Linked DNA regions of Homo sapiens: region 1 is linked to region 2. The links come from fine-mapping of genetic effects on plasma protein levels. Region 2 holds a variant in brackets. A gene starts in the other region. All regions are shown on their forward strands. Region 1 holds the start of NCAN (neurocan). Region 2 holds the start of LOC124902448 (a long non-coding RNA gene).

What was found. PIP is the posterior inclusion probability: the model's chance that the variant is causal. The UK Biobank Pharma Proteomics Project read protein levels with antibody pairs (Olink). The fine-mapping took linkage between variants from a reference panel, not from the people measured, so its PIPs are less certain.
Region 1: it holds the start of NCAN, and the variant in region 2 is fine-mapped to the plasma level of the NCAN protein (UK Biobank, PIP above 0.99).

Annotation. Positions count from the first base shown.
Region 1 is chr19:19,208,438-19,218,732 of GRCh38, forward strand. NCAN (neurocan) reads left to right here and starts at 3,521. Exons shown (of 15, transcript NM_004386.3): 1 at 3,521-3,627; 2 at 8,510-8,589. The coding sequence starts at 8,517. RefSeq lists enhancers at 3,323-3,617, 5,170-5,670, 5,671-6,171.
Region 2 is chr10:72,023,802-72,034,096 of GRCh38, forward strand. LOC124902448 (a long non-coding RNA gene) reads left to right here and starts at 3,510. Exons shown (of 2, transcript XR_007062187.1): 1 at 3,510-3,682; 2 at 4,659-5,118. The variant CAA/C (reference allele first, on the strand shown) is at 4,580.

The DNA of each region.
Region 1 (10,295 bases), not on the chromosome of region 2:
CCCTCTAAGCTCAGCCCTGGCACCAGCGAGGAGCCGGGGGGTGGGGGCAAGGGGTGGGGAGGAGTGGAGAAGCGGGGGAAGCAGAAGGATGAGGATAGGTGGGGTTGGGGCTCAGCTCTGCGCCCACAGACCTTGGCTTCCACCTGGTCTCTACTCACTCTGTACATCCTCGGGCAGGTGATCCTAGCTCCTTAAGCCTCAGTTTCCCCAGCACCTGTAAAATAAACAGCAGTCCCTGCCTGTGTGTTTACTTCCCATTTCATTCTCCAAGCAACCGGTAACGTAGGGACATTCATTATCCCCCATTTTATTTATTTATTTATTTAATTTTTTCCCAAGATGGAATCTCACTCAGTCACCCAGGCTGGAATGCAGTGGTGCCATCTTGGCTCACTGCAACCTCCACCTCCTGGGTTCAAGCGATTGTCCTACCTCAGCCTCCTGAGTAGCTGGGATTACAGGTGTGCACCACCCCACCCAGCTAATTTTGAATTTTAGTAGAGACGGGATTTCACCATGTTGGCCAGGCTGGTCTCAAATTCTGACCTCATGATCCATCTGCCTTGGCCTCCCAAAGTGCTGAGATTACAGCCTTGAGCCACCGCGCCCACCCTCCCCCCATTTTATTTTATTCATTTTTGAAATAGGGTCTCACTGTGTCACCCAGACCAGAGTACAGTGATGCAATCTTGACTCACTGCAGCTTTAATCTCCTGGGCTCCAGCGATCCTTCCCCCTCAGCCTCCCGAGTAGCCGGGACCACAGATGTGTGCCACCATGTCCTGCTAACTTTTAAGTTATTTTTTGTAGAGATGGGGGTCTCACTGTGTTGCTCAGGCTGGTCTTGAACTCCTGGGCTCAAGTGATCCTCCTGCCTCTGACTCCCAAAGTGCTGGGATTACAGGCATGAGCCACCGGCACCTGGACTATCCCCATTTCAGATGGGGAAACTGAGACACAGAAAGATGAGATGGCTCACTCAGAGTCACATTGTTACGAATGGCAGGGAGGGGGTTTGAACCCCAGACTTGTGGAGGCTGAGCTACTCGGTTCTCACGCACGTCACGCAGCTGTTCTCAGCGTCTTTCCCAGTGTGAGCCACAGCCAACCCCCCAGCACGCTCCAGCCTCACCGACTAGTCATTGCATGCTGTTTGGGTGCTGCTGACACAGCTGTCACCTGCAGACACTCACATCAGCTGGGATCCTTGACCTCCATCTCTCCTCTGTGACACAGAGTCAAACAGTCAGTGCAGCTTCCCGCTGTATCATCTTGGACCCCAGGGCTACCCCTTGCTCACCTGGGGTCCCCCCTTATCCCTCATTCATTCCTACCCTTTCTTTGATAATCTTTTTTTTTTTTTTTGAGATGGAATCTTGCTCTGACACCCAGGCTGGAGTGCAGTGGCACAGTCTCGGTTCACTGCACGCTCCGCCTCCCAGGTTCAAGTGATTCTCCTGCCTCAGCCTCCTGAGTATCTGGGATTATAGGTGAACACCACCATGCCTGGCTAATTTTTGTATTTTTAGTACAGACAGGGTTTCACCATGTTGGCTGGGCTGGGCTGGTCTCAAACTCCTGACCTTAGGTGATCTGCCTGCTTCAGCCTCCCAAAGTGTTGGGATTACAGGCATGAGCCACGGTGCTTGGCCTCCTTTCTTCTTCTTTTTTCTTTTTTTGATGGAGTCTCACTCTGTTGCCCAGGCTGGAATGCAGTGGCCCAATTTCGGCTCACTGCAACTTGCGCCTCCAGGGTTCAAGCGATTCTCCTGCCTCAGCCTCCCGAGTAGCTGGGATTACAGGCGTCCGCCACCACACCCTAATTTTGATTTATTAGAGATGGGGTTTCACCATGTTGGCTAGGCTGGTCTCGAACTCCTGACCTCAAATGATCTGTCCTCTTGGCCTCCCAAAGCGCTGGGATTATGGGCGTGAGCCACGGCACCTGGCCAAGGCCTCCTTTCTTTGATAACCTTGTGGAAGCTATCTTGTCCCTCATTTGCCTATCCTCCTACCAGATGGACACGCACCCTCAGAGATGCTAAACACACACTCACAGATATAGGACCCAGGGTGGAGCGCTGCGAGCCCATTCTCAGCACAGAAACACCACGACCATAGGAAGGAAGGCAGGGGCAAAGCCTGCCCTCTCTGGGCACATTTCCCTCCTCATGGCTTTTTTTTTTTTTTTTTTTTTTTTGAGACGGAGTCTCACTCTGTCACTCAGGCTGGAGTGCAATGGCATGGTCTCAGCTCACTGCAACCTCTGCCTCCTGGGTTCAAGCGATTCTCCTGCCTCAGCCTCCTGAGCAGCTGGGATTACAGGTGTCTGCCAACACGCCTGGCTAATTTTTGTATTTTTAATAGGGAAAGGGTTTCACCATGTTGGCCAGGCTGGTCTTAAACTCCTGACCTCAGGTGATCCACCCGCCTTGGCCTCCCAAAGTGCTGGGATTACAGGTGTGAGCCACCGAACCCAGCCCTCATTACCATATTTTTAATGGTGGTCAAATACAGATAACATAAAACTCACCATCTTAAAATGTGTAATTCAAGGCCATGCGCGGTGGCTCATGCCTGTAATCCCAGCATTTTGGGATGCTGAGGCGGGCGGATCATTTGAGGCCAGGAGATCGAGACCAGCCTAGCTGACATGGTGAAACCACATCTCTACTAAAAATACAAAAATTAACTGGGTGTGGTGGCAGGTGCCTGTAATCCCAGCTATTCAGGAGGCTGAGGCAGGAGAATCGCTTGAACCTGGGAGGTGGAGGTTGCAGTGAGCCAACATCGTGCCACTGTACTCCAGCCTGGATGACGGAGCAAGACTCCGTCTGAAAAAAAAAAAAAAAGATTGGGGTCTCATGTCTCATGGCAGGGACATGCCTATGCCTCTGCATAAAGCAAAATTATTCATGTGTCAACAGCAGTACCCAGTCCATAGAGTGTGCTACATAAATGCTGATCAGACAAAGGTGAATGAATGAATGATACAATCTGGCTGTAGTTGCTGGAAACAGCTCGGGGGTGTCACACACCTGGACTCCCACCCTGCGTGCCTCTTACCAGCTGTGTGAACAAGGAGTCTCCCCGTCTCGTCCGTGCCTCAGTTTCCTCTCTGTAAATGGGGTAAACCAGTAATTGTAGCCAAAACTGCTTTGAACGTGAGTCCTGGAGAATCAGGCAGGGCGAGGTTCGAATCCCAGCTCTGCCTCTGTGCGTGACCTTGGGAAGCGACTTTGCCTCCTTGGGGCTCAGTTTCCCCACCTGTAAAATGGGACGGCCTCATCCTGGGGCATAATGGGGACGTTTAACGCGGTTCCTGGGGCAAAGAGAATGGGAGGAGAATCGATGCCATCTTCTCCTGGGTGCGGTGAGTGTCCAAAAAATGGGCGGGGTGGGGATTTTAGGCAGGGGAGCCCCCTCCCTCGCGCAGCCAGAGGCCTCGGGCTGGCGGGGGCGCATGCGCAGAGAGCCCTCGCGGCCCCTTTATAAGCACTGAGGCGGCGCTGGGGCCAGCGGAGCGCAGGGCGCAGGGGCTGGACCCGGCGCGGAGCTGGCTGAGTCGGAGCGCAGCGTCCTTTGTGCCCGGCGGCCGCCCCGGGATGCGTCCGAGCTAGGAGCCAGGTGGGGGATCCGTGAGGGGGCCGTGTTGCGGGAGAAGACTTCGGGATTAGAGACAGAGCTCAGGATTAGGGAGAGGACCTGAGACCAGGGAGAAGTCCCCAGAATGGGGAGGGGGCTGAAGCGGGGGAGGGGAGCCCTAGGTTGAGGAGGGAGCGCGAACTGGGAGGGGGCTTGGGAATGCTAGGTGAACAGACATTTGGGGAGGAAGGTTGTCCGCGGAATCCGGAGACTACCCCCCGGTGGGGAGGGGGCCGGGCTGGGGGTGGGTCTCAGGGTTGAGGAGGGAGCAATGGGAAACAGGGCTAGGGGAGGGGCCCCCCGAGTTTGGAGGGAAGAAGAGGACACCCAGATGCCGAATGGGGGACTCTGGAACAGGGCACCCCCGTATCTCAGCCGAGACACCCCAGGATTTTAAGTAGGGATTCCCAATTTGCGGTTGAATGGAGGATTCCGGGCCGGACTGCAGTGGGGAGGGGGCCCCCAGATCACCCTGTGCCCAATGGAAGGGTATCTGCGCTGAGAGCGAACGGCCATGGGGAAGGGGCTCCCTGCCATCTCCCTGTCCTTTTGGGTCAGGTCCGGTCACCACGTTCTGACTCAGGGAGGAGGTCCTGGGGGTCCCCATCCCAACGTGGTTCCCCGTTATTCCCTTAGACCTTGGGTTGAGGTGTTGTCCCTTATCCCAGGGAACACACTGGGTGTCCCAGGTGAATGTTGGGTGGGGGTCCCCTAGACCCCCCAGCTATGGATCCCCAGGACCTGTGAGGGATACCAGCTCAGAGGGGGGGCTGTCCCCCAGCACCTTCACAGCCTCCCACGTCCTTACAGCATGACACAGACCCCTACCCCCACCCCCTTTAGTTCCACCTGTCCATATGGACACATGTGGAAGCGCTGGCTTGGTTTGGGGGCACAGGGGCTGGGAAGTAAGGGGCTGGGAAGTAAGGGCCCTGTCTGGGCAGGAGAGACCCCCATCCCTACGCGTGGGGCTTTGTTCCTCTCAGGCAGCATCAATGAGAAACAGCCAGGCCAGGGAGAGGGTTGGCTCTGGGCCCCAGCGGGGGACGTGGGGGCAGGGCAGGCAGGAAGGGGTGGGTGCACTGTGGGACCCCAGAACCCAGCCGTCGCAATAGCTGATGGACATTCTGAAATCAAGTTCCCCCTCAAGGATATGGGGGTTTTGTGTGTGTGTCCACCCCAGACAGGCAGGGAGGGGGAGTATGCCCAGGGGTTCTAGGGTCCCCTGTGAGTCTGATGTGACTGTGGTTGTGTCTTTGTCAGAAAACTTGTGCCGAGGGCCACATCACCATGTGGCAAAATGATGGGTGTCCATCGGTCACCAAGGCCACAATTATCCATCTCGGTTTGTGCCAGGGGCTGGCATCGCCGTGTGAGTGAGGAGCTATGTCTGATGCTGTTCCGTTCATCAAGGGGTTTATGTGGGGGGGGGGGGGCCCGAGACTGTGGGTGTGTGTCTTTGTGCAGAAGACACGCCGCCTGTCTTGTAAGTGCCCATATTGTCTCTCTTTGTTAATGTCACTGTGAATCTGTGTGAGTGTGTGTTTCCCCAGGGTCTGTGTCTGGGGTGCGTGGCTGTGTGTGTCCCGCTTGTGTATCTGGAGGGGCCAAGGGTTCTTTCCATGCGGTTGGCAGTGTGCACCCTTGGCACGGGGGTGTGGGACGTGGTCTGTGTTCAGAGTTGGGGCGCTAACAGGGAAAGCTTGAGCAGGGGTTGAAATCCCCAAGGGGAAGCCCGGGATGATGACTGAGCCCATCTCCCTTTCTCCTCCACGGAGTTCCACATTCACACCCATGCACACTAATACACCCTGACTCTCAGGTCAGAAACACACACATGTGCGCACAGCCCCCTGCTGAGGGTCACTCAGACTCACACACATCCACAGATCACACTAGGTCCCATGTGCTCCACCCGGTGCACGGAGCTGCTGCAGGCTCACACACACAACATGCACCCACCACATGGCACAACCGCCTTCACACCCTTGCCAGGACACAACACCCCGGACACACACCCAGTCACAAACACTCACAAATGCCCATTGGCAAACTCACCTTCACTCAGTGCTAACGGAGACTTGAGGTGGGGGTGAAGTGAAGGAGGGGACACACACACACTTACACACACACACTCACACACACTCTCTCACACACACACATTCACATGGATCCGAGCTGCCCCTCCTCCAGCACCCCGCAGGCCCCTGCTTGCATATGCATGAGGCTTGTACATTATTCATGAGGGCACGGGCCCCAGACAGCTGTGTAAATGCTCATCTCTGGCCGCCCTGGGGAGGAGGTATTTTAAGAGAAGGGTGTGGGTGTGTGAGGGTGCGAGTGGAAGGGAGTGGGAGGGTGTGTGTGGGGGGTGTGCACCTGAAACTGTGTCTGTCACCATGTTGGGCAACCTCAGTATATTTTTAGCGTATACATGAGGCTTTGTGTCTAAAGAGCTGTTTTTAAATTTAACATTTCTAGGACTTTGCAAGTCTTAGGTCATTTCATCCTCACAGTAGCTGCAGGTGGTACTTGCTGGATAATCTCCATTTTACAGGTGGGGAAACTGAGGCACAGAGAGATTGAAGCAGCTTGTCCCGGATTAGAAGCAGAGCTATCTGGATGTAGTCTGACCTGTTAACGGGGTGTGTGTGTGTGTGTGTGTGTGTGTGTGTGTGTGTGAGAGAGAGAGAGAAAGAGAATTCTCTGGCCTTGTCCTCTCGTAAGGCCCTGCTGGGGGCAGGTGCAACCCGGAGTCCTGTCTCTCTCTAATACCTGGCCAGGCCTGGAACAGCCATGAGGGGACCCCACACTTGCTCAGGGTTCCAAGGGGAAGAAATGAGAACAGCCTGGTGAAGGCAGAGGTTGCTGAGGTTTACAAGTTGGTAGTTGGGAGCACTGGTCCAGGGTCTGGCTTTGACCTCTACCCTGCTGTGCAGCCTGAGGCAAACCTCTAGCCCTCTCTGGTCCCTGAGGCATCGTGTTAGCAGGCAGGAGGCAGGGGTGGACTAGGTGGGCTTTGCCGCTGCGTTGCCGCCTCAGAGTTCAGCACCACGGACAGGTCCCAGGCCGGCCTCCCAGCAGGGGACTCTGGGAGCTGGGAAGGAGAACTGGGGAAAGGGACAGCTGTCACATACAGCCTCCCCTTCTGGACTCCGTTCACACCCCTTCCTCAGGGATAATTTCTTATGGGGGCGGGGAGCAAGGATTGGGTTTGCAGATGATGTTCTAATTTTCCATCTGCGCCCACCTCCTGAGCCCTGGTGACCGGGGTTCGCAGGAGTGGGAGGTTTTGGGGAGGGACCACCTCCCCAGGATTCCTAGTCTCTGGAACAATGTGAAGTCAGGAAATGCACTGCTGTGTCCCAACGACTGGCATGGGCTTTGCTCACAGTAGGCGCTTAATAATTGTCCACTTTATCCCTATGGGTCCTAGCCCCTATAGGGAAATGGACCCACAACTGAAGTTTCTCTGTGGGCCTAAGAAGTATCTTTGTTGAGCTGTGTGAAGTCAGGAGGAGGATGGGTGGGCAGGGGTGAGCCCCTTCCTCCAGCTGGGAGTTGGCGGCTCCTCCAAAATCCCAGAAACCAAGAATAGAATCTTGGTGACAACCAAATCCTGGAATTGAAGCTGCGAATCGTGTCAGCCAGCAAACCCAGATTAAAGGATGGCTTAGAGGCCAGCCTGCTGCCTGGACTGAGGATGCTGGGAGGACTGGGACAGACTGCTGCCCTCTAGGAGCCGCCAGTCTGATGGAGGAGGCTGACTTGAAAAATGGTATTTCAGTCTTGGCTGTGTTAAGGTCGGTAATAATAATAGCAGCAGCTAAAATGTACCCCTTACTGCATGAGACAGTTCTAAGCATTTTATATGTATTGACTCATCCATTCCTTTCAACTACCTGATGTTATCCCCATCTGACCCACAAAGAAAGTAAGGCACAGAGAAGGTAAGCAACTTGCCCAAGATCACACAAAAGGAACAGTGAGCCAATTCCAGATTTGATTCACTACCAGCACCCAGGCTTCTGACCACAGACTTCATTGCTTGGATTGTTTTTTGTTGTTGTGTTGTGTTTTGTTTTGTTTTCAGTCTCGCGCTGTCACCCAGGCTGGAGTGTGGTGGTGGAATCATAGCTCACTGCAGCCTTGAACTCCTGGGCTCAAGCAATCCTCCCACCTCAGCCTCCTGCATAGCTGGGACCACAGGTGTGCGCCACCAAGCCCAGATAATTTTTTTTTTTTTTGAGACAGAGTCTCACCCTGTCGCCCAGGCTGGAGTGCAGTGGCGTGATCTCGGCTCACTGCAACCTCCACCTCCCGGGTTCAAGTAATTCTCCTGCCTCAGCCTCCTGAGTAGCTGGGATTACAGGCGCCTGCCACCACGCCCAGCTAATTTTTGTATTTTTAGTAGAGACGGGGTTTCACCATGTTGGTAAGGCTGGTCTCGAACCCCTGACCTCGTGATCCACCCTCCTCGGCCTCCCAAAGTGCTAGGATTACAGGCGTGAGCCACCACGCCTGGCTGCTAATTTTTTAAATAGAGGTAAGATCTCACTATGTTGCCCAGGCTGGTCTCAAGCTTCTGGCCTCAAGCAGTCCTCCCACCTCAGCCTCCCAAAGTGCTGGAACTATAGGCGTGAGCCACCGCGTCCAGCCACTGCTATTCTGAGGTCAAGTGGCCCTGGGTTCGAATTCTGGCTCAGCCCTTTGCTGGCTCCTTCTGTGACCTAGAATAACACACTGGTCTCTCTGAGCCCTGGTTTCCTGATCTGTAGAGTGGGGGAGTTTGGTCCTGCAATGCTGAATATCTGGGAGGGTTGGGCTGTGGCTCACCCCTCCCTCCCTCTCCATTTTGTTCCAGATCCAGGATGGGGGCCCCGTTTGTCTGGGCCTTGGGCCTTTTGATGCTGCAGATGCTGCTCTTTGTGGCTGGGGAACAGGGTGAGTTGGTTTGTGGGGAGGGAGAGATTGGGGTCTAGGGGATGGACAAGATGGGGCAGCTTTTGAATTCCAGAGCCTTCTCCTGCTGGTCTCCTGGCATGGGCTAGAGAATAAAATGAGAATAGATTTTAAAAGGTCTTTGAACAGTCAAAAGCGAACAGGATACCTAAGAGGTTATTTTTAGTCATTGTCAGCAGAAGCTGGAGATTCCCGCCTCTCATCGTTTTGCTCAGATGAACTGGAGAGAAAGAAAGAAAGAAATGAGAATAGTGCAGAGATTGATTAGTGATGTCTGCCAAGGGTGGAGCGATGGAAATAAAGGTCTGTGTCCCTCTACTGGTGGTCAAGAGCCCAGGTTTTAGAAATCCCTCACAGATTTGGTCTGTGACCTTAGGCAAGTATAATTATCTCTCTGAACTTCAGTTTCCTCAACTCCCCCCAAAGAGAATGAGACATTGCTACTCTGCAGATGGTTATGAAAATCAAATGAGCTGATTGCTATAAAGTGCCTGTTACAAAGATGGTACTCTGCAAACACCATTTCCTTTTCATTAGCTGTCTTTTGCTTTACCTTTCGGAAAAACTGGGGCTCAGGGAAGGAAAATGCCTCTCCCAGGGCCATACAGTGAATCAGTGGCACTGGAGTGAAATCCCTGTCCTTATAAAAATAAAGTGAGGGGCTAGGCACAGTGGTTTATGCCTATAATTCTAGCACTTTGGGAGGCTGAGGCAGGCAGATCACTTGAGGTCAGGGGTTCCAGGCTAGCCTGCCTAACATGGTGAAACTCCGTCTCTACAGAAAATACAAAAATTAGCCAGGTGTGGTGGCACATGCCTGTAATCCCATCTTCTCGGGAGGCTGAGGCATGAGAATCGCTTGAACCTGGGAGGCGAAGGTTGCAGTGAGCCGAGATCATGCCACTCCACTCCAGCCTGGGTGACAGAGTCAGACTCAAAAAAATAATAATAAGGCTGGGTGTAGTGGCTCACCCCTATAATCCCAGAACTGTGGGAGGCCAAGGTAGGTGGATCAGTTGAGGTCAGGAATTGGAGACCAGCCTGGCCAACATGGTGAAACCCATCTCTACTAAAAATGCAAAAATTAGCCAGGCGTGGTGGCACACACCTGTAATCCCAGCTACTGGGGAGGCTGAGGCAGGAGAATTGCTTGAACTTAGGAGGCAGAGGTTGCAGTGAGCTGAGATCATGCCACTGCACTCCAGCCTGGGAGATGGAGCGAGACTCCATCTCAAAAGTATAAATAAATAAAAGAATAATAATAATAAGGGGCTGGGCACAGTGGCTCATACCTATAATCCCAGCACTTTCGGGAGGCTGAGGTGGGAGGATTGCTTGAGTCTAGGAGCTTGAGGCTGCAGTGAATCATGATCATGTCACTGCATTCTACCCTGGGCGATAGAGTGAGACTCAATCTCTAAAAATAGTTTTTTGTTTTTTTTTTTGAGATGGAGTTTCGCTCTTGTTGCCCAGGCTGGAGTGCAATGGTGCGACCTTGGCTCACCGCAACCTCTGCCTCCCGGGTTCAAGCGATTCTCCTGCCTCAGCCTCCTGAGTAGCTGGGATTACAGGCATGTGCCACCACACCCAGCTAATTTTGTATTTTTAGTAAAGACAGGGTTTCTCCATGTTGGTCAGGCTGGTTTCAAATTCCTGACCTCAGGTGATTTGCCCGCCTTGGTCTCTCA
Region 2 (10,295 bases):
AAATAGCCAGGCGTGGTGGTGGGTGCCTGTAGTCCCAGCTACTCAGGAGGCTGAGGCAGGAGAATGGCGTGAACCTGGGAGGCGGAGCTTGCAGTGAGCCGAGATGGCGCCACTGCACTCCAGCCTGGGTGACAGAGCGAGGTTCTGTCTCAAAAAAAAAAAAAAAAGAAAGAAACCAAAGTGTTGACAGTAGATGGTGAGTATTTTATGGTTTTCCCTCTCTTTATCTGAATTGTTAACAATTTCTTTAACAAACACGTATTCCTTGTGTCATCACATAGCAGTTAAGAGCTTGGGCTTCAGAGTTAGGCTGCCTGAGTTCAAATCCCAATTCCATCATGGGTTAGCTGAGACCTCTCTGAGCCGCAGTCTTCAGGTACAAGATGGAGAGAATAATAATAAAGCCAAGACGCTGGCTGGGTGGGTGTTGGAAGGCTCTAAGTGAGATGATACAACCCGTGTGCTCCCCCTGGCACAGTACCCCACAGTTATCCATTACTGTTACTGTTATCACCATGACTAATTACTGTTATAATTATTAATATAACCTTTGCAATTAGGAAGGTGAGAAGCCTTGGCCTCTGCCCATATCCTCTGGCCACCCAGAGTCCCCGAGAGCTGTCCCCACCAGCTCTTCCCTGCCAGGTTGGCGCTCGCTCTCAGACTTACTGTGAGGCCTTCAGCCCACACTTGCCAGAACTCCCGTGTTTTCTCCTCCGTGCCCTTTTCTGCAGAGAAGGCTTGGAAGAAACAGCCCAGCAAACACCAGTCTCCTGGCCCCAGAGCGAGACGTGGAAGTTTGCAGAAATGCATCACCAAATGTTTGATTTGGGAGGAGAGGAAGAGCAGAGCTCATACCGAGAGCAAAATAGGACAGAAAGGAGATTTTTCAGTAAGGGCTGAGGAGAGACCATCGTTCATCACTGGGGCCTCCTTGTTTCCTCACTTAGTTTCTTGACTTCAGTCCTGACCACCTCATTTGCTGTGGAACATCTGGCCCCAATATGGGGCTGATTTAATAAATCCAAGACATCTTCCTTTGCCCAGCAGACTTAGAAGAAGCCAAGGAGAAACCCTGTGGGGTTGCCAGCAAGGACCCATAGAGGCAAAGAGACAGACAGGAAAGAGGAGGATGGTGAATAACCAAGTGGGAACCGGGGCGCATCTGGCAGGTGAGCTGAGACCCATGTGTTCAGAAATCAAGATTATGGGCCAGACAGAGGCATGCCCATTGAAGCCAGCAGCAGCCTCCAGAAGCGACCACCTGCCCTTGGTTTCTATCCTTTCCTGTTGTTCCTCACTAGGCAGGAACTGGCTTTATGTAGGTCACAGATTTTCCAGATATGGGAGAACAGGATTTGGGACACCTTGTAGTTGTTACACACACACGCGCACGCGCGCACACATACACACGCCCCCTCCTCCCAGACTGGAGGGCAGAAGGGTCATGGAGCTTCAGCTAGAGTCCCTCCTCCTGTTGGTCTGGCCTGTAGGGATACTGTAGCCCCTCTGCCTGCGGATGTCTCATGACCCCAGACAAAGCAGAGTGACTGTGGCTGACGAGCATGTCGGAAGGGCTGACGGGAGCATCAGGTTGAAAATGAGAGAAAGAAGTGCATGAAAGAAGTTGTGATTCCTAGAAGTTCCCACTCCACCCACTTCCCACAACAACTCCACTACTCCAAATGAGAAATTAATTCCTTCAGGATCAGGGTTGCGAAGGAGGTGCCAAAACCTAAGAAAAAGGCTTTGTGTTTGCAGGGTGTGAACTTGGTTTAAGAGAAGCTAGCCATGACGCAGCTATGGGACGGGGTCCTGGACGTCTCAGCATTTCAGGAGAGTTAGCAAGGCTGCCCTGCGCGGGGGTGGGGTGGATCTCTTCTGTTACTGGTGTTGGAGATAGAACAGTGGTCAGGGACATTAATTGTGGCGATCGATTTTCCTTATTCTCACTTATGTATGTAGAAGAGATTCAATGAATGGTAAAGTCATTATACCCATTCCCCTACAGGGAGTAGAGAGAGACCAGCTTTCCTCATTCTGAACTCTGGCCCTCTACAGGGAAGAAAGAGTCCCCAAACTCAATACTAAACAAACCCAGTGGTTTTCAGCACCGGACACAAGTTAAAATCTCCCACTAGTTCTCACACTTTCCTGGGTATGCGACGCCCTGCTCCTGAAGGCCTTGTTAAAACACAGATCTCTGGACCCCACCCTAACAGCTTTGGATTCTGTTGTCAGGGTGGGGCCTGAGAGTTTGCACTTTAACAGGTGCCCTGGTGATGCTGATGCTGCTGGTCCCCGGGTCCAACTTTGAGAACCACCACCCCACCCCCGGTCCTCAGAGACTGATTTGGTTGGTTTGGAGTGGGGTTTCTTTGGCAGCTGTTGTTTAAAAGCACCCAGGGTATCCCAGAAGAGCCATGGTTCACACCATCAAGGCCAGTTATGGAGAATCTTCTACGAGAGCACATTATAAAAATAAGCACTTTCAGCAGGACGTGGACTCTAAAAAAAATAAATAACATAAAAGTAGAAATAAGCAGAAACATCCAGCTCTCAGTTAAGTACTTGCTAAGCTCCAGCTGCTTCAACCTCATCTAATTCCTGTTCCCTTTCCACATCCTGGTCTTAGCCCCTCTGCAGCTTTGCAGGAGCCGTCTCCACGTGGCCTGGCCTGGCTGAGCTCTGGGGCAGGAGCGCTTGGTGGCATCTCTTGGCTCTGAGTCTACAGTTTCCTTGACATCTTATTGCTCTGATTTTCTCTCAAGTGCCTCCCCTTCTTTCCTTTGTTCTGGGAGAAACATTCCCTCATCTTGTCTATGTGCAGAGATCCCCAATGACTTGCCTTCCTTACGACTGAGCAGATAGAAAGCGACTTGCCTTGGTCTGTGGAATAGCCGATATCCTATGACCCTTATCCCTCCGCCTGGCGAGACCCACATGGACATAAATCACAAGGATGCCAAGGCAAGACTGTGGACCCTGCCTCCAGCCGAGGCCTGGCAGAGGGGAGCTGTGGGCTTCCAGCCCCCTGTGGGAAGATTTACCAAACAAAGAGCAGATGCTTCAAACAATGACTTCATTGCAGACTGGGTCCCAGTACATTCAGGAAGGGAGTGGCCCATGGATGCTGGCCAATCCTACTCAGAGGAGCCTCAAAGAGAAACCAAGCAGGCAAGCCAGTGACCAAGCAGCCACGGTGAGGACTGGGGAGGAAGACATGCACATCTCACCTCTCCTGGGCCAGGCAATTATAGGCAATATCCTAATTAATCCTTATGACGGCCAGGCGCAGTGGCTCACGCCTGTAATCCCAGCACTTTGGGAGTCCAAGATGGGCAGATCAGGAGGTCAGGAGTTCGAGACCAGTCTGGTCAACATGGTGAAACCCCGTCTCTACTAAAAATATAAAACTTAGCCAGGCATGGTGGCAAGTGCCTGTAAGGAGAATTGCTTGAACCTGGGAGGCAGAGGTTGCAGTGAGCTGAGATCGTGCCACTGCACTCCAGCCTGGGCAACAGAGCAAGATCCCATCGCAAAAAAAAAAAATTAAAATTAAAAAAAATTAATCCTTATGATGCCACAGTAGACCTTGATCTGGAAGATGTGACTGCTGACCTATCCTGCCTCCTTGGGTCTGATACAAACAAGCCGAGTGGGAACTGGCAAAAGGGCACGGGTAAGCACTCATGTATGTGCATACAGGTGTGTGTGTGCCTGTGTGCATGTGTGTGTTGATTCCTACCCCTCAGTCTTCCCAGCCCCAGCGCACACAGATTCCATCTTCATTTTCTTAAATCTTCGTCTTTGCCCATAACCTCCCCCATGGAGCCTCCCAGCCTAATTGAAAAAAACAAAAAAAGAGAGAGAGAGAGAGAAATGTTGAACTGTTATATGATTCCCCTTATCTCAAATGGGAGGAAAATCGCTGGAAAGTTTTAAAGTCTAGGTGTCAATAGTCCTGTGAGTCATTTTACGACTGGGTTCGGGCAGCCCCGCAGCCAAGCCCTCTTGCCTCTCTGAATCTGTTTTACCATCTATAAAATGCAGTCAAGGGAGGTGGGGAGGGCTTCCAGTCAGGTTAGTTTCACATCCATGCTTTGAGGCCCTGTGGTCCCAGAAACAGCAATAAACGGGCAAAACATTAAAAGGGAAAATTTATTTTTTTAATTTTTTTAACGTATGTTTTTTGAGACAGAGTCTGACTCTGTGGCCCAGGCTGGAGTGCAGCGGTGTGATCTCGGCTCACTGCAACCTCTGCCTCTAAAAGGGAAAATTTAAAAGCACCCCGTCTATCAGAAAATAAAAGACACAGTCACACTCAAAATCATTTTAGACCTATTTGTGGTACAAAAATGGACCGAAACCCCAATGCTGTAAGGTGCCAGAGACCTGACCTCTTGGGGCTCTGGGTCAGCGTCAGCTGTCTAGGTTGGGTGCGGTGGCTCATGCCTGTAATCCCAGCACTTTGGGAGGCTAAGGTGGCAGGATCACTTGAGCCCAGGAGGTGGAGGCTGCAGTGAGTCATGATTGTATCATCTCACTCCAGCCTGGACGACAAAGCGAGAACCTGTCT[CAA/C]AAAAAAAAAAAAAAAGAAGAAGAAAAAGAAAGGTGTTTCTTTATTGTCTTATCGTCTTTCCTGGCATCTCTTACAGCTAGGTGTACCTATGTGACTAATGTCCAACCAATGGAAAGTAAGTGGAAGCGTTAGGTGCGATTTCATAAAGGGAGAGTGGTACTCTTTTTTGCTTCTTCCACCTCATGACAGCTCAAATGCAGACATAATGGCAAGACTCAAGCCGCCATATTGGAGTGTGGGGTAAAAGCCACTCACTGAGGACAGCAGAACTGGATAGACGTCTCCTGAGTCCTTGATAATTATGGAGGCACCACGCTAGCCTTGGACAGCCTATCTCTGGAATGTGTGTGAAGTTTGTGTTTCATAATGTTGCTGTAATTTTGGGTGCTCTATTACTCAAGAGTGAATCTAATCCTCGCTAAATCAGAGGTGTCACACGTCGTGCCACTACTCATTAATTTGGGGCATTAGATTTACTTTCAAATTGTTGTTATTCTAAATAGCATAACATGAACCTCTTTATGTAAAAAACTCAATCTGCATCTCTGGGGTTTTTTTTTCTCGTACTCTATTATCTTCCTAGGATACATTTCTGTTAACAGAATTTTAGCATCAAAGAATATCTAGGCTGGGTGTGGTGGCTCACGCCTGTGATCCCAGCACTTTGGGAGGCCAAGGCGGGTGGATCACCTGAAGTCAGGAGTTCGAGACCAGCATGGCCAACATGGTGAAACCCCGTCTCTACTAATAATACAAAAATTAGCCCGGTGTGATGGTAAATGCCTGTAATCCCAGCTACTTGGGAAGCTGAGACATGAGAATCACTTAAACCCAGGAGGCAGAGGCTGCAATGAGCCGAGATCGCGCCACTGCACTCCACCCTGGGCGACACAGTGAGACTCTGTCTCAAAACAACAACAACAAAAATCTACATTTTAGTATCTCTCAATTCATGCTGCCAACTAATGTTCTTTTTGTTGTTGTTTTTGTTTTTAAAAAATAATAGACATGGGGTCTCCCTATGTTGCCCAGGCTGGTCTCTAACTCCTGGGCTCAAGCAGTCCTCCCACCTGAACCTCCCAAAGTACTGAGATTACAGGCCTGAGCCACTATCCCAGCCTACCAACCAATGTTCTGAAATGGTTGTACAAATGACATTCCTGCCAGTTGCATATTTGAATGCCTATTTCACAGTTCCTGCACTAGTACAGGAGGCAAGGGAGTATACGCTTTCTGTCCCCCAGCCATGCCCTTTGAACCACTCTGGACTTGAGCTGCAGCTGGGCAGTCTCTCCTGTCCCCACTCACAGCTTCCCCCTCTCAGGTGCCAGTAACATCTCCCAATTTCCTGACCCCAGACTTTCTCCAAAGCTCCAGAAGCTTACTCAGCTCTCATGCAGGTGAAGTGTGGCAAGGAGTTAGTGCCCCAAGGAGACGAGAGATGCTGAAACACACCTGGGTGTTTTTTATTTGTTTGTATTGGTTTTTTTCCCTTTTATTTTCAATTGACATATAATAATTGTATATATTTATGGGATACAGAGTGGTGTTTTGATAAGTGTTGGTTTTGGTAGTGATTTATAAAAGAGGAATAACTGAGTCAACTGGAGCTATTTTTGAGGATAGAGGTGAGGACCAGATAATAACAAAATAACAATAGCAATTATTTGTTTAACACCTACTCTGTACCAGATACTGTTTCGCTGTTGACGTAAAACAATCTTGGCCAGGCGTGGTGGCTCACGTCTGTAATCCCAGCACTTTGGGAGGCTGAGGTGGGCGGATCACCTAAGGTCAGGAGTTCAGCCTGGCCAACATGGTGAAACCCCGTCTCTACTAAAATACAAAAATTAGCCCAACCTGGTGGTGCTCACCTGTAATCCCAGCTACTCGGGAGGCTGAGGCAGGAGAATCACTTGAACCCGGGAGGCAGAGGTTGCAGTGAGCCGAGATTGCGTCATTGTATTCCAGCCTGTGCAACAGAGCGGGACTCCTTCTCAAAAAAAGCAAAACAAAACAGAAACTAAACAAAAATAAAACAATCTCTCAGCAACTCTGCAAACTAGATTATTTTATTATTCCCACTTTGCAGATGAGGAAACCAGGGCTTGGAGGTGTAAAGTAACTTGCTCAAGGTCTTGAAGTTATGAGGCTGAAGCAATACGGCTTGAACAAAGACTGAGCCCCACCTCGTCTGAGGTGGCGGAATATGAGGAACATGGTCTTAGGAGGGAGGAAAGAGTGGATGATCCGAAATGAATCCCAGTTTCCCCTACAAAATATGAGGGTCATGTGCAGGGAACCCTGACCAGTCCTCCTGTGAGTGTGTGTGTGTGTGTGTGTGTGTGTGTGTGTGTGTATTAGGATGGATGGGACAAAGTGATACATTACAAAAAGCCGGGAGAAGGAGCTTGGTCCAATGCTAACCGGCGCCATGGGAGTGAGGCTCCTATCTTCCTACAGAGAGTGGGAGCAGGGGCCCTATCTTCGGGGCTTGGCTGGAACAAACAGTTCTGGCGGCAGCCTTGTGTTTGTTCTCTCGGGCAGGCAGCTTAAGGGGAGGCAGGGTCATCCTGGACTGCGGCCTTGAGCTGTTGCAAACACTGCCTCACCTCCCGCCTCACCCCACGCAGTGCTGGAACTCTGGGCAGGGGGACAATGGTGGGTCTGTGAGGGTGTCAGGTTGTCAGGAACAAGGCTGGTGGCTTTGAGCAAGTTGTGCAACCCCTTCCAGCCCCAGGTACTCATCCTTCCAGTGGAGGATGTCACGGCTGCCTTCACAGGAGATGGAAAGATCAGCCCCTCTCCCAGCTTCTTGTGGTTCATTTGCCTGACTCTCCTGAGCCTCCGCTCAACTCCTCCCCATTTCCTTCTTCTCCCAGTTTTTTTGTTTTTGTTTTTTTTGTTTTGGGGGTTTTTTGTGATGGAGTCTCACTCTGTCGCCCAGGCTGAAGTGTAGTGGCGCAATCTCGGCTCATTGCAGCCTCCGCCTCCCGAGTTCAAGCAATTCTCGGGCGTCAGCCTCCCAAGCAGCTGGAAATAGAGGTGCCCACCACCACACCTGGCTAACTTTTTTTTTAATCTGAAAAGCCAGTAAAAATGCTGAGAGGTCCCTCTGCTACCAAGGTATGTGGGCACGTGGAAGGGGTCAGCTGCCTTGTCCAGATGCTGAGGGGCTGGTAGAGAGAAACATCAGCAGATGGGAGGGCTGCTACTGTCCCACAGAGAAGGGCCAGCTTGAAGCCATGGGCTTAGGGACCCAATGTTTGGGCTGACTGTTGTTAAGAACACAGTTTTGACGTTCCCCTGAGCTGAGTTCCCGTCCCGGCTCACAGTGCTTCCCTGGCTGGGCAACCTGGGGCTTGTGATTGTCCCTTTCACAGCCTCAGTTTTCTCAGCCCTGAACGTTGTGAATGTTGTGAGATTTGAATGAGATAATGCAGACAGAGCTTAAAAAGAGGCCGGATGCAGCAGCTCGCACCTGTAATCCCAGCACTTTGGGAGGCCGAGGCAGGAGGATCATTTGAGGACAGGAGCTGGAGACTAACCTGGGCAACCTAGCGAGATCCCATTTCTATGGAAAATTTAAAAATTAGCCCGGCGTGGTGGCATATGCCTGTAGTCCCAGCTACTTAGGAGGCTGAATCGGGAGGATCACTTGAGCCCAGAACATCGAGGCTGCAGTGAGCTGAGATGTAGCCACTGCACTCCAGCCTGGGCAACAGAGTGGTACCTTGACTCCAAAAAAAGGCGGACAGGAGGGCTTAGAAAAGAGCTTGGCATGTAGAAAGCCCTCCAAATGTTAATTTATAATTATGGCAGGGATGAATTTCAAAATCATAAAGTGCTCACAGACAACAAGCTGCCTTGTCCACAGAGATGGCTGCAATTCCTCTGGAATACTGGGGGAGGGTGAACAGTGATGACTAAATCCCCCTCCTCTCAGGCCCCAGGACTCCAGGGCAGCACTCTTCTTAGCCCTGGGTGTGTGGGGGGGTAAAGCATGGGACCCTCCTTCCAGTCCCCACTGCCAGCCTCCCTGGCCCCCCAACACCCTGTCCTGCTCTGTGCCAGGAGGCTGCTCACAACCCCCGGAGCACCTTATTCCTGTGACTGGGCCGAAAGACGAGGCTGGGCGCAAGCCCGGAGCCCAGTGATGTGTCACACGTGAATCTGTCACATGTGAAGACACAGAAACAGCCCCTTGGCTGTTACTAAAGGGAAAAGAGGCCAGCAAGGTGACTCACACCTGTAATTCCAGTGTCAGAGGCATGTGAACCAGAGCAGCTCCATCTTGAATAGAAGCTGGGTAAAATGAGGCTGAAACCCACTGGGCTGCATTTCCGGATAGTTAAGACATTCTAAGTCACAGGATGAGACAGGAGGTCAGCACAAAATGCTGGTCATAAAGACCTAGCTGATGAAACAGCTTGCAGTAAAGAAGCCACTAAATCCTACCAAAACCAAGATGGTGACGAGAGTGACCTCTGGTCATCCTCACTGCTACACTCCCACCAGCGCCATGACAGTTTACAGATGCCATGGCAACATCAGGAAGTTACCCTATATGGTCTAAAAAGGGGAGGCATGAATAATCCACCCCTTTTTTTTTTAGCATATCATCAATAAATAACCATAAAAATGGGCAAACAGCAGTTCTCAGGGCTGCTCTGTCTATGGAGTAGCCATTCTTTTATTCCTTTACTTTCTTAATAAACCTGCTTTCACTGCACCGCAGACTTGCCCTGAATTCTTTCTTGCACGAGATCCAAGAACCCTCTCTTGGGACATGGGGTGGGGACCCCTTTCCTGTAACATTGGCACTTTGGGAGGTCAAAGTAGAAGGATAGTTGGAGCCCAGGAGTTTGAGACCAGCCCTAGCAACATAGCAAGACCCCATTTCTACAAAGAAATTAAAAAATGTATTAGCTGGGAGTGGTGGCATGAACCTGTAGTCCCAGGTACCCAGGAGGCTGAGGCAGGAGGATCGCTTGAGCCCAGAAGGGCGAGGATGCAGTGATCTGTGATCGTGCCACTGCACTCCAGCCTGGATGACAGACCTGTCTCAAAAAAATAATAATAAAAAGAAAAAGGAAAGAAAAGAAATGCTCCTTTTCCAAACCTTTCCCCTGAAGAGAGCCTAGCCTTAGACTCTGGCCCGTTCCCTCCCAGGCACTCCAGACTCTTGTGTCATGGGATGACCCCCCCCCCCACACACACACACACCAGCCCTGTGTCTCTCCCTGGGTGCTTTTCATCCCCGTATTAATTCTCCAACCTTTGTTGGTGAATCCTCCCCACTCCCCGCATATGATCTCTCACATGGGGCTTTAACTGATTTTAAAAAATAACATGAACAAACAGTGAAACTAAAAGCACAGCTATGTTGAAGCCTGGTCCTCTAACCTAGTTTCAAATAATAATAATGATAATGATAAATACAGCTATTATTTATTGTGCTTTGTTGGAAGGACATTAGACAATAATTCAACATTCACAAAAATCCTGGGGTAGGTATCATGATCACCTGCATTTTACAGATAGGAAACTGAGTCATGGAGACATTAAGCCACTTGCCCAAGATCACACAGATCAAGGGAAGATTGTATAAAGCCCCTTCCCACACCAGCTGCCGCTTCCCGACTGCAGAGGCTCAGGGTGCTCTCTCTGTCCTCAGAGGCTTGTGTAACCATCTCTGTGCCCCGTTGCCCGG